3 linked regions of the Homo sapiens genome follow. The protein of the gene in region 2 purifies or fractionates together with the protein of the main gene of each other region. This does not show direct contact. Each region holds a gene or a part of one and is shown on either strand. Other genes may lie near its edges.

The links.
Region 1: the proteins of COA3 (region 2) and NDUFA9 purify together in Homo sapiens (affinity purification with western blotting; 2 studies listed by BioGRID, with this or other methods). This does not show direct contact.
Region 3: the proteins of COA3 (region 2) and COX5A purify together in Homo sapiens (affinity purification with western blotting; 3 studies listed by BioGRID and IntAct, with this or other methods). This does not show direct contact.

Annotation. Positions count from the first base shown.
Region 1 is NC_000012.12:4,647,469-4,651,068, reverse strand, and holds the start of NDUFA9 (NADH dehydrogenase [ubiquinone] 1 alpha subcomplex subunit 9, mitochondrial precursor), read right to left. Parts: upstream 1,956-3,600; 5' UTR 1,943-1,955; coding exon 1,894-1,942; intron 1-1,893. UniProt on the Homo sapiens protein: Accessory subunit of the mitochondrial membrane respiratory chain NADH dehydrogenase (Complex I), that is believed not to be involved in catalysis. Required for proper complex I assembly.
Region 2 is NC_000017.11:42,797,172-42,800,994, reverse strand, and holds COA3 (cytochrome c oxidase assembly factor 3 homolog, mitochondrial), read left to right. Parts: upstream 1-2,290; 5' UTR 2,291-2,313; coding exon 2,314-2,527; intron 2,528-2,827; coding exon 2,828-2,934; 3' UTR 2,935-3,370; downstream 3,371-3,823. Other genes in the region: CNTD1 (cyclin N-terminal domain-containing protein 1), read right to left, coding at 1,759-1,927. UniProt on the Homo sapiens protein: Core component of the MITRAC (mitochondrial translation regulation assembly intermediate of cytochrome c oxidase complex) complex, that regulates cytochrome c oxidase assembly.
Region 3 is NC_000015.10:74,936,706-74,940,528, reverse strand, and holds the start of COX5A (cytochrome c oxidase subunit 5A, mitochondrial precursor), read left to right. Parts: upstream 1-2,455; 5' UTR 2,456-2,514; coding exon 2,515-2,614; intron 2,615-3,823. UniProt on the Homo sapiens protein: Component of the cytochrome c oxidase, the last enzyme in the mitochondrial electron transport chain which drives oxidative phosphorylation.

The sequences.
Region 1 (3,600 bases), on a different chromosome or scaffold from region 2:
TGGCATACAGTTTAAACTACATAAGTGTTAGCTATTATTACTATAGAAAGCAATTTTTAGGAGTTCTAATTTATATTTCCACAACTTATTAGGTCCTCTTGCACAACTCCCTTTGGAGACTACCGATCTAAACTCTGCTTGGCTTTCAAAGGTCTCCATTGTCTGATCCCATCTAACACATTCAACCTCCTTTTCCACTATCCCAGATATTCAGGTAGTCATTTCACTGCCTCTTGAATACCTCATGACTCCATTCTCACCCACTTGTCTTTGCCAGAGGACTTTCCAGATCATAACAGCCCTAAAGAGACCAGTGGGAGCACTACAATTCTCCACTGGTCTTCCAATCATCCCTCAGTACCTCAAATGATACTAATCTTTCCCTTTTATGATTTCCTGTGATACTTAATAGTCTTGCCACACTTAACTATATATAGTTGTCTTACACAGTTCTGTCCTATAGTGTGTGGATTATGTTACATACTAGACTTGCCTCTACAGAATTTACTCAAAAACTTACTTTACCAGACAATAACGCAGAGTGGTTAAGAACACAAGCTATGGTGTCAGTCAGAGGAAAGTAAGTTAAAAGAGGAAAATTAATAAAAATACCTAGAACTGGAGATTGCAGATAGCAGGTACTCAATAAATAGTGATTACCATTCACAATCTACATTACGTCATACAATTGTAATAGTTTAACAAGAACCAGCAAATGTCTTTGCAAAGACATTGTGACTACAAAACCATCCACTATAAGTGATGTGCACCACCACCTTCCCAGTGGTATGCAGGAGTTCTACCCAAGATGGAAAACAAAAAAAAAAGGATCCTCTAAACACTCCTAATTCTTGCCTCAGGCTGAACATCAAGCCTATCTGTGGTGCTTTTAAAAATTTAAGGTGCAAGGAGCTAATCTCACAAATTCTGACTCAATAGCTCTACACTCAGTCCTCATTTCTAATTTTTATAAAGCTTTACGAGTGATTCTGACATGAGCCAATTTTGAAAGCAAATGATATTCTGTAACGACTAAAATACACTAAGAAAAATACAACTTTGGGGGTTTGATTGGAATATGTTTGTGGAAGAGTAGAGGGTGAAAGGACAATGATGAAGTGTAACCGTATTTCTAATTTCCTTGCTTTTTAGTGAGTGGAAGGACAAATGTATGTTTTCAGTTTGAGGAGTGGGAGCAGATCCAATCAGAACAGAAGAGAAACTAAATAATGCTAACAAATTCTAACATAGCCTTCATTCTTCACTTTCCTTTCCACCAAGCTCCTGATTCTTCTCTCCTCAAACATCACTCTCTCCCCCAGACCCCAACGCACTTTGCCGAACACATTCTACATCCGTAGAGACGCTTTTGGGTAAAAGGATGCTTTTACAAATATTAGCTCATTTAATCTTATCAGAGACTCCCTGGTATTGTAATATTATCATTTCCATTGTGCTCATATGAATTGAGACCCATTAAGGGTTTGCACAAGGTCATAAAATCAATCTAAGAAAACCTCTCGCCACTAGCCTTTTTTCCCTCCCTTACACATTTCTCCCCCCGCCCCATACAAATATTTCTCATAACCCTAAACCCTTACAACCATATCAGAATTCTGATTCTCTCGATCCCTAACGTGTCCCCCGCATTCTCCTCTTCGCTTACAGCTGCTTAAGATCTTTTGTCCCCTCCCAAGGTGGTGCACAATTGAATATGTGAGCCGGGGAAGCGGAAAGCGAAAGGAGAAACCAGACTGAGGCAGCTCCAAACCTAGAGAAACCAGAGTGTGCCTAGGAAGTTGGCGTGACCGCTGCAGCACGGTGCCACTTCCAAAACCTTAAATCCCCGTCTCGGAATCCCGACCAGGGGCCGCCGTTCCCGGTAACACTTACGTGACATTGACAGGACCCGGACAACCCGGGATTGTGCGGCAGCCGCCATCTTTTCCCACAATCCCCCACGACAGCACTCCCGGCTGACTACGGCTGCTAAGCTGGGTCAAAACTTACCTTTCTCGCCTGTCTGCGCAAGCGCTAACCAAGAAACGACGGTTTCGGGTAGATTGTTGGTTAAGAAGAAAGCTGGGAAAGTGAAGGAGAGGGGGAAGAAAGGAAGTGAAAAGACTTTGGCTGTTGGAATCTCAGATCTGGAATAGGCTGTATAGGCTATTTATAATCTCTAATTGCCGAGGAACCTGAAGTTCAGAGTTAACCAGTGACTGACTCAGGACATGCAAAATGGCAAGACCCGAGGTAGAAGAGCTCACCTTTCCTGACTCTCAGTTTCCTGTTCCCTGAAAATGTAAGCTAAGCTGGCAGCCCTGGTGAGTCCGGAGGAAGAAGGAGGCGTAGCCCTCCGCGCTCAGGAGATCCAGGGCCCAGGAGAGAGAAAAGGGGGGACAAGAACGAGGGGAAAAGTGGAGAAGAGAAACCAAAATAGGGTGTGTCCCAAGTAAATAAATGTGCGTCGAGCCCGCCAAGCACATTCTCTCATAGGGACCCTTGCGCCTGCTGTTCGCGTTTCCTGGAATGCACACTCAGGTGTCTGCACCAGCTCAAGTCTCTGCTCAAAAGTGACCTCTTCGGATAAAACTTCTCTGACCATCCTATCCAAGGTGGTAATTATTCCACCAATTTTTGGTTTAAGTTTATATACCAAAGCACTTATCACCAACTAGCATATGAATCTAGGAGTTCTTAACCAGAAGTGTGATTCATGAGTGGGCTTCGGGAAATCTGTGAACTTCCTGAAATATTATGCAAATTTAGTGGCCATGTGTGCCATCTGAACATCTGTCTAAGGAGAAACTGCAGATGGCTCTCTCTAGCGCAATGGCTTGTAATTTTTTCTTTAACTGTGGTCACCTTTGAGAATCTGCATTGTTCTACAAAGAGCCATCTAGAAACTGAGGAAATTCCAGGTTAGACTAAGCGCTTGGATTTTAAAATACTTTATTCTGGTCAACCTCTCCAGATTGCTGGGTAGGAGATGGCAACCAGTGATCCTGTGAAACATACCTTAGGCTTATCAGAAAACCACCTAGTTTGGGGAGGGCGGGTTCTTTCTAGACTTGGTAATCCTTCCAGTGCTTTGTTTTTTCAGGAAAAGTATGTGTTTCTGGGATAGACAAAAAGGCCTGTGATGAGTAGGGATGTAGAAGTTGCTTATTACTAGGCTTGAAATCTTGGCTGTTTCCACTCTATCTTGCCCCTACTGTTTACTGAAGTGTCGCCTAACAAATTGAATTGGAAGAGAGAAAAAAACCTTGAATTTCATCGGAGAAGCTTAGTAGTAACGCTACACTGTCATATTTCTTGGCCTTATCCTATGTTCACTTAACACAATTTGCTAATACTTGATTTTGGGACCAATATGGATACTAACATACTTTCCTTGTTCGGATCAACAGATCCTGACTGTCATCAGCAACCTGCTTACTCCTGTATAACACTGCCAATTATATAATTTAAAATCTCTAAGTTAAACACTGCCTCATGTTCTCAGTTCTAGTTTCAAGGTTGCATGGTGTAATTAAAAGAACACTGACTTTTTTTTTTTTCAGAGATGGGGTCTTACTGTATTGCCCAGGCTTGTCTCAA
Region 2 (3,823 bases):
CAGGCTGGTCTCGAACCCCTGACCTCGTGATCCACCCGCCTCAGCCTCTCAAAGTGTTGGGAATACAGGCGTGAGCCACCGTGCCCGGCCGTGTCTGTGTGTTTCTTTTAATGACCACTATACTTCCAGTCTTCCAGGCTCAACCGTTTAGCATAGTCACGTTTTCCTCCTTCACTTCCTAAATTTATCCACAGCAGAACCCTAGACTTTGCCTCTAGAATGTTTTTAATCCACCCTCCCTTGTTATTCCCTCTGCCCTATCACCTAGCCTACTGACATTGACTCTACCTGTCTGCCTACATCCCATCTCCCTCTGGTTTAATCCATCCTTTACCTCCTTTACATCACTGCCAAAATAATGTTTACTAAGGCAGGGTTACCATCGTATCCCTTATTTTAAAACCTTCACTCCCTTATTTAAAAACCTTCAATGTCTTCTTGGTTTCCTACCAAACCAAGGATAAACTCTTCCCCTTGGCATTCAAACTTCCACATGGAATGTCTCCAAACTACCTTTCCAGTATTAATTTCAACTATTCTTCCACATGCACTGGCCAACATGGACTACACTGTACCCACATGCACCCTAAGCACCCCATTTCCATAGCTTTACTCATGCTACCTCTTTTTGGTAGAAACACTGTCTCCTTCCTCCCCCTTCACCAACCCAATGTCCTCCTTCCTTCAAGGTCTGCCTGAAATGTCCCGATGCCTGGGCCATCCCCTGAATTCTTCCTATTACCCCATCGCTCCTCTCAACCCCCATAAACGCTTGTTTTATTTCTCTCTGACGTCTCTTATCTAACCATAGTACCTAGTCATTGCATATTTGTTCTAATATCTCCCCCAAATTGCACATGGTTTGAAGGCAAGACCTCTATCTCTATTTCATCTTTCTTTTCTCTTTTTTTTTTTTTTTTTTTTTAGACAGAGTCTCGCTCTGTCACCCGTCACTCAGGCTGGAGTGTAGTGGCGCCATCTCAGCTCACTGCAAGCTCCGCCTCCCGGGTTCATGCCATTCTCCTCCCTCAGCCTCCGGAGTAGCTGGGACTACAGGCGCCCGCCACCACACCCGGCTTTTTTTTGTATTTTTAGTAGAGACGGGGTTTCACCATGTTAGCCAGGATGGTCTCGATCTCCTGACCTCGTGATCTGCCCGCCTCAGCCTCCCAAAATGCTGGGATTACAGGCGTGAGCCACCGCGCCCAGCCTTTTTTTTTTTTTTTTTTTTTTTTTTTTTTTGAGACGGAGTTTCATTCTTGTCGTCTAGGCTGAAGTGCAATGGCACGATTTCGGCTCACTGCAACTTCCGCCTCCTGGGTTCAAACAGTTCTCCTGTCTCAACCTCCCGAGTAGCTGGGATTAGAGGTGCGCGCCACCAGTCCTGGCTAATTTTTGTACTTTTAGTAGAGACAGGATTTCACCATGTTGGTCAGGCTGGTCTCGAACTCCTGACCTCAGGTGAACCTCCCACCTCAGCCTCCCAAAGTGCTGGGATTACAGGTGTAAGCCACCATGCCTGGCCCTCTATTTCATCTTTCTAGCCAAGCGGTGCCACTCAAGTATTCCATACATGTCGAAGAAATCAAGGGGAGGGCACTGTTGTGACTTATCCATCACTATATCCCCAGCACCCCACAGAGAGGTGTTAGCAAACATTCTCTGAATGAATAAAATCAACGGAATCTCAAGGTCGGTGCCTGAAAGACACAAGCCCCAGTCTCCCAAGAACCCAGCACCCCGGCCCTGCAGCCGCACCCACGATCTGGGGCTCCCTGAAGCGGCCCAGCCGCCCCGAAGCCTCCCTCACTGCTTGCTCATTCTGCTGGGCCAAGTGAAGCAGGGCGTCTTCAATCGTCTCTGTGGCGACAACTCCAAACTGAAAGTCAACGAGGGAGGCCGATCGTGGCCTCATGGGTCCGTCCATATTCACGAGCCTCTTGGGGCACCTGGACGGGTTCACTGGATCCACATACCGACCCCCTTAGCTCCTCTCCAGTCTTCTGCCACACCCTGGATTCCTCGTCCCCTTCCAATGAGTGTGTCGTCGCCTCAAGTCTGAGGAAAACCCAATTACCACCACAGCCTCGAACCCTCCACAGCTTTTTCCCGCCCCAACGGCCACGGACTCCTCAGCCAATCAGAAAGCACGTCCGCTTCTCACCTCCCGCGTCCATCCCCTGTGCCCGGGAACCGCGGCTCTGCCCCGCAAAGGGCACGCGGACTACAACTCCCAGAGTCCACTGCAGCGGCCAAGGGCTACTGTTCCCAGCGAGGCCCGCGCGGCGGCACCGCGAAGGGAGGAGTGGCAACATGGCGTCTTCGGGAGCTGGTGACCCTCTGGATTCTAAGCGTGGAGAGGCCCCGTTCGCTCAGCGTATCGACCCGACTCGGGAGAAGCTGACACCCGAGCAACTGCATTCCATGCGGCAGGCGGAGCTTGCCCAGTGGCAGAAGGTCCTACCACGGCGGCGAACCCGGAACATCGTGACCGGCCTAGGCATCGGGGCCCTGGTGTTGGCTATTTGTATCCGTCCGTGTTGTAGACTCAAGGGGACCGCATATAGGGGCAGGGGAACAGAGTGTGCAAGAGGGCTGAACCACCCGTTTAATTTTGGGGTAAAATGGGTAGTACTTTCCTTTGTTATTCCTAAGGTACTCTTTTAATTTGATTTATTAATAATAACGGAATTGGGGTTCAGGGTTTAGAAACAGCAGCGGCGGGAAGCCGGAATCACTGATTTGGGAGAGTAACAAGAGTGGTAGAGCAAATCTAGGAAAGGGGAATGTGCATATTCTGTGTGGTTTCCTGAACCTACCTCCCCAGATGGTTACACCTTCTACTCGATTTCCCAGGAGCGTTTCCTAGATGAGCTAGAAGACGAGGCCAAAGCTGCCCGAGCCCGAGCTCTGGCAAGGGCGTCAGGGTCCTAATCTGGATGGGTATTGATCATGTCCAACCTGCTGGAGCCCCTTCACATGGTGGATGATGCCCCATGACCCTGTAGAAATTGAATCCTGCTCACAACATTGTTGGCCTTCTTACTAACCTTGGACCGTGATTGAGCCCAAGAAACCAGGGACTTACGCATTTGGCCAATGTCAAAAGAACAGAACTTTGCCCACTGCACACTTGCTGTGTACAATGACTGAGCCCTTTCTTGTAGTTTGTTTCCTTGTTTGAGAGGTGTGCATGCGACCGTGGCTTTTCCCAAAGTTTCTGACTTTGTGGTTTACCCCCTTCACCTTCCAGGGACGCAGTTGTTACGAGGTTAGACGTGGCAGCTCTGTGCAGTGTTTGAGCCTACAGTGGGATACATAGGGTCAAATTGAGAATAATAAACTGAGTCATTCTCCTGGAGTCAAGTGAGTATGGAGGCTGAGAGGCAGCATATGGCACTTCATGCTGGAAAGCTTCACAAGCAGTAGCTGCAGTGGTGGCATTGCCCCAGGGAGCTGTAAATGTTTAACTAGAATTACTTTTTCCATGAGATCTTTCCACCTGATTTAAGGGAGAGATCACTGGGCAGTTTGAGACTGAACCCACGTCTTAGGGGAAGGAAGGTCACTCTTCTGTCCTCTACCCACAAGAACATACTGTAACTCTACTGCTTTTCCCATCCCCAGAGAGAGGGAGGGAGAGAGAGGTGGATGAAGGGTGAAAGACAAGCAGTCTTCATTCTTTTAACTTTCCCTGGTACCTGCCTATACAGGTCTAGGGTGGGGTCTGGAGGGGATCCTAACTTAGTCAAGTGGATCACTGACCTTGCAGTTTCCTCATTAACTGATGGCAGGAAGCCAGAGGGCTGGGCAGCTTCCACCC
Region 3 (3,823 bases), on a different chromosome or scaffold from region 2:
CAGCCTCCCAAATTGCTGGGATTATAGGCATGAGCCATCGCGCCCAGCCTTAACTTCTTTTTTTCTTTTTTTGAGACGGAGTCGCACTCTGTCACCCAGGCTGGAGTACAGTTGTGCGATCTCGGCTCACTGCAACCTCCACCTCGCGGGCCCAAGTGATTCTCCTGCCTCAGGCTCCAGAGTAGCGTGCGCCACCACACCCAGCTAATTTTTGTATTTTTCGTAGAGACGGGGTTTCACCATGTTGGCCAGGATGGTCTCGAACTCCCGACCTCAGGTGATCTTCCCACCTCAGCCTCCCAAAGTGCTGGGATTACAGGCATGAGCCACCATACCTGGCCATGTTTCCTTTTCTCCTTTTTTTTAAAAAATTTTATTTTTGAGACGGAGTCTAGCTCTGTCACCCAGGCTGGAGTGCAGTGGTGTGATCTCGCCTCACCGCAACCTCCACCTCCTGGGTTCAAGTGATTTCTGGCTAATGTTAGTAATTTTAATAGAGATGGGGTTTCACCATGTTGGCCAGGCTGGTCTCAAACTCCTGACCTCAAGTGATCTCCTGGCCTTGGCGGCTCAAAGTGCTAGGATTACAGGCGTGAACCACCGTGCTCGGCCTTAATTTCTTTATGGCCAGCTGTTACATAGAAAGGCAAAGAGAAAGGTTAGAGCAATATTTTTAGGCTTTATGGCTGGCTTTGGGACAAAGGGGTTCTACTTTCTAGACCCCCTCTTGGGGAGGAGGGATTCTAGTTTCTGTGGCATGCCTGGAGGGAGAGTAAGGGGCAAGAGACAAGAGGGCAGAAGGTCAGAGAGAAACTGCTTCATAGGCCTTCACTTTGTGGTATTGTTTTCTAAGCCCCAGCACTAGGTTGGTGGGAAACGGTGAGGGCAGGTGCTTTGAAAACATTTTAAAAATCCTTTTCCCCGCCAGGTTCCTACCCACTGAAGCCACACTGCTAGGGAGGAAAAAGAGAAGGGCAGATGCTGAGGCCCTGGAGAGTCGGCCTGAAGTGAGGAAGTGGCACATGAATGGCCACCTTTTCTTTCCTCAGTGTGCCCAGGGATAGAGAATGGGAGACAGCAAGACAGAATACAATGTCTCATTAACTCTGGGCAGCATCCAGATACTTCAGGCCTGGGAGAGGTGTCCTTGACTGCCCAGGGGCTCAAAGTTAGGATGTAGCTAGTGAGATAAGATGCAACAACTGTGGAACTTGATCAACCCTATTTCAGAGCCATCGTGGATTCAGGAGCCCTCCTGTAGGAGATGGGAAACATTCAGGTGAGAGTCCTCAGAACTGGGGATGTGGCGAAAAGATCCTTGACTGCCAGCAGCAACCTAATTTCTGAGCCTCTTTCCTAATCTGTGAAATGAAGTAGTTTAACTCATTTTTTATGCAAGCTGGTTTGTGATATAAGAATATGTACTAATAAAATCCCTTACGCATAGGCCTTTTTTTTTTTTGAGATGGAGTTTTGATCTTGTTGCCCAGGCTGGAGTGCAATGGTGCGATCTCAACTCACTGCAACCTCTGCCTCCTGGGTTCCAGCAATTCTCCTGCCTCAGCCTCCCAAATAGCTGGGATTACAGGCATGCGCCACCACACCTGGCTAATTTTGCATTTTTAGTAGAGACAGGGGTTTCTCCATGTTGGTCAGGCTGGTCTCGAACTCCCGACCTCAGGTGATCCGCCCGCCTTGGGCTCCCAAAGTGCTAGGATTACAGGCGTGAGCAACCGCGTCCAGCGGCATTCTTTCCCCCATTCGCTGTTTTATTTTATGCCACAATGAGAAGGCGGGGCTAAGCAAAGTAGGTTTTTGTTTTGTTTGGTTTTTTTGAGACGGAGTTTCGCTCTTGTTGCCCAGGCTGGAGTGCAATGGCACCATCTCGGCTCACCGCAACCTCCTCCTCCTGGGTTCAAGCGATTCTCCTGCCTCAGCCTCCCGAGTAGCTGGGATTGCGGGCATGCGTTGCGCCACCACGCCTGGCTAATTTTGTATTTTTAGTAGAGACGGGGGTTCCTCCATGTTGCCCAGGCTGGTCTTGAACTCCCGACCGCAGGTGATCCGCCCGCCTCGGCCTCCCAAAAGTGCTGGGATTACAGGCATGAGCCACAGCGCCCGGGCGCAAAGTACGTATTTTTTATTATAGTTTGTTGTTATTGCTGTCATTCCTATTTTGAGGTGATTAAGTGCCCTCCTGGGCCTGACTCGAACAAGATCACGGTCGGTTGCTCCTCCCTCGCCTCCATTCCTACTTACAGGATGGCAGCTGCACGTCACCTGACCAGAGACAAGGCGGGACGCGAGGCTAACAGTTTGTCCTCAGCGCGCCGCCGTAGCCCCCGCCGCCGCCGGCCGCGCGGTGGCTCCTCCCGCCCACGCGCCAGAGTCGCAGTGGGCGGGCCTACGTGCTCCGCCCGCTGTGAGCCTGTCCGGCCCCCGCCCGCTCCGGAGCAACCCGCGAGCTTACACCGGCTTCTCTCTGTCCTCAGCCCGCGCGCCGCCATCGCCGTCATGCTGGGCGCCGCTCTCCGCCGCTGCGCTGTGGCCGCAACCACCCGGGCCGACCCTCGAGGCCTCCTGCACTCCGCCCGGACCCCCGGCCCCGCCGTGGGTAAGGCCCCTGCTTGCCACTGCCCGCGCCCTCGTGTCCTTGCGGTGACCTGGGTCCCCGCTGCCACTCCGGGGCGGGCTCTCCCCGGCCTAGCCCTTGCCCTACCCTGGTTACTGAACCCGGTGACCGCGGGCCGCCCTGCCCGCCGCCTCGAGTAGTGGAGGACCTGAAAGCGCGCCCCCGGGGCCTCCCCCCGCGCAACTTCCTGGCTGTGCCACCGCGGACAGGTCAGATGTGGACCTGCTGTGGGCGCCGAGGAGGGGACGCAGCGCTCCCCTTCGGTTCCCGGGCCATGACCCTGCCCCAGCGCCGACCCTGCGGCCACCTGACCGAGAGTGGCCGCCGCCGGCCTGCAGCGCCTCGGCGAAGGTGACATTGAGCCTCCGGGCACGCCGCTTGGGGTCCGAGGACACAATATACTTCCGTATGGGACACACGATTATACTTTTCAATCAGGCATTTCTCGGTTAGCGATTAGTGTGTCACCTTCACAGCCTTTTCCATCATTTTTAGGGTCTGCTGTGCCACGTTCTAATTCTTCCACGTTTAAAATAGATGGAAGTGTGTGGTTGTTTCCTGATCTCCGGAAGATAGCCAGAGTTTTGATAGGGCTTATGATAAAAATATCACTCTTTTGAAAACTGAATGTCACAGACACAGGAATACTGGGTTTTACAAGCATAGGAACGCTTCGTGTTTTTTCCCCTTTGTAATAGAAGCCTGATTGCTGGAGTATGAGACGTGCTTCTGATTTTTGTCTATTTTCCTTCCCTTTATATGTGTGCTGGGAGGTTTTGAGTCCACCACCATAGAATAATTACAGTAATTGCACTTCGATCTTGGTCCGTGAAATTTAGCTTCTATGCATGCATATTATATTTTATTTTTGAACCTGCATCACTGGCAACTATGCATGCGTATTTAAACATAAGAACTCAGAAACTCGTTTCAGGGTATGCTGAAGTTAAAAATTAAAAAAAGAACTCAGCCGGGCGCGGTGGCTCATGCCTGTAATCCCAGCACTTTGGTAGGCCGAGGCGGGCGGATCACCTGAGGTCAGGAGTTCAAGACCAGCCTGGCCAACATGGTGAAACCCTGTCTGTACTAAAAATACAAAAAATTTAGCTGGGTGTGGTGGTGGGCGCCTGTAATCCCAGCTACTCGGGAGGCTGAAGCACAAGAATCGCTTGAACCTGAGAGGCGGAGGTT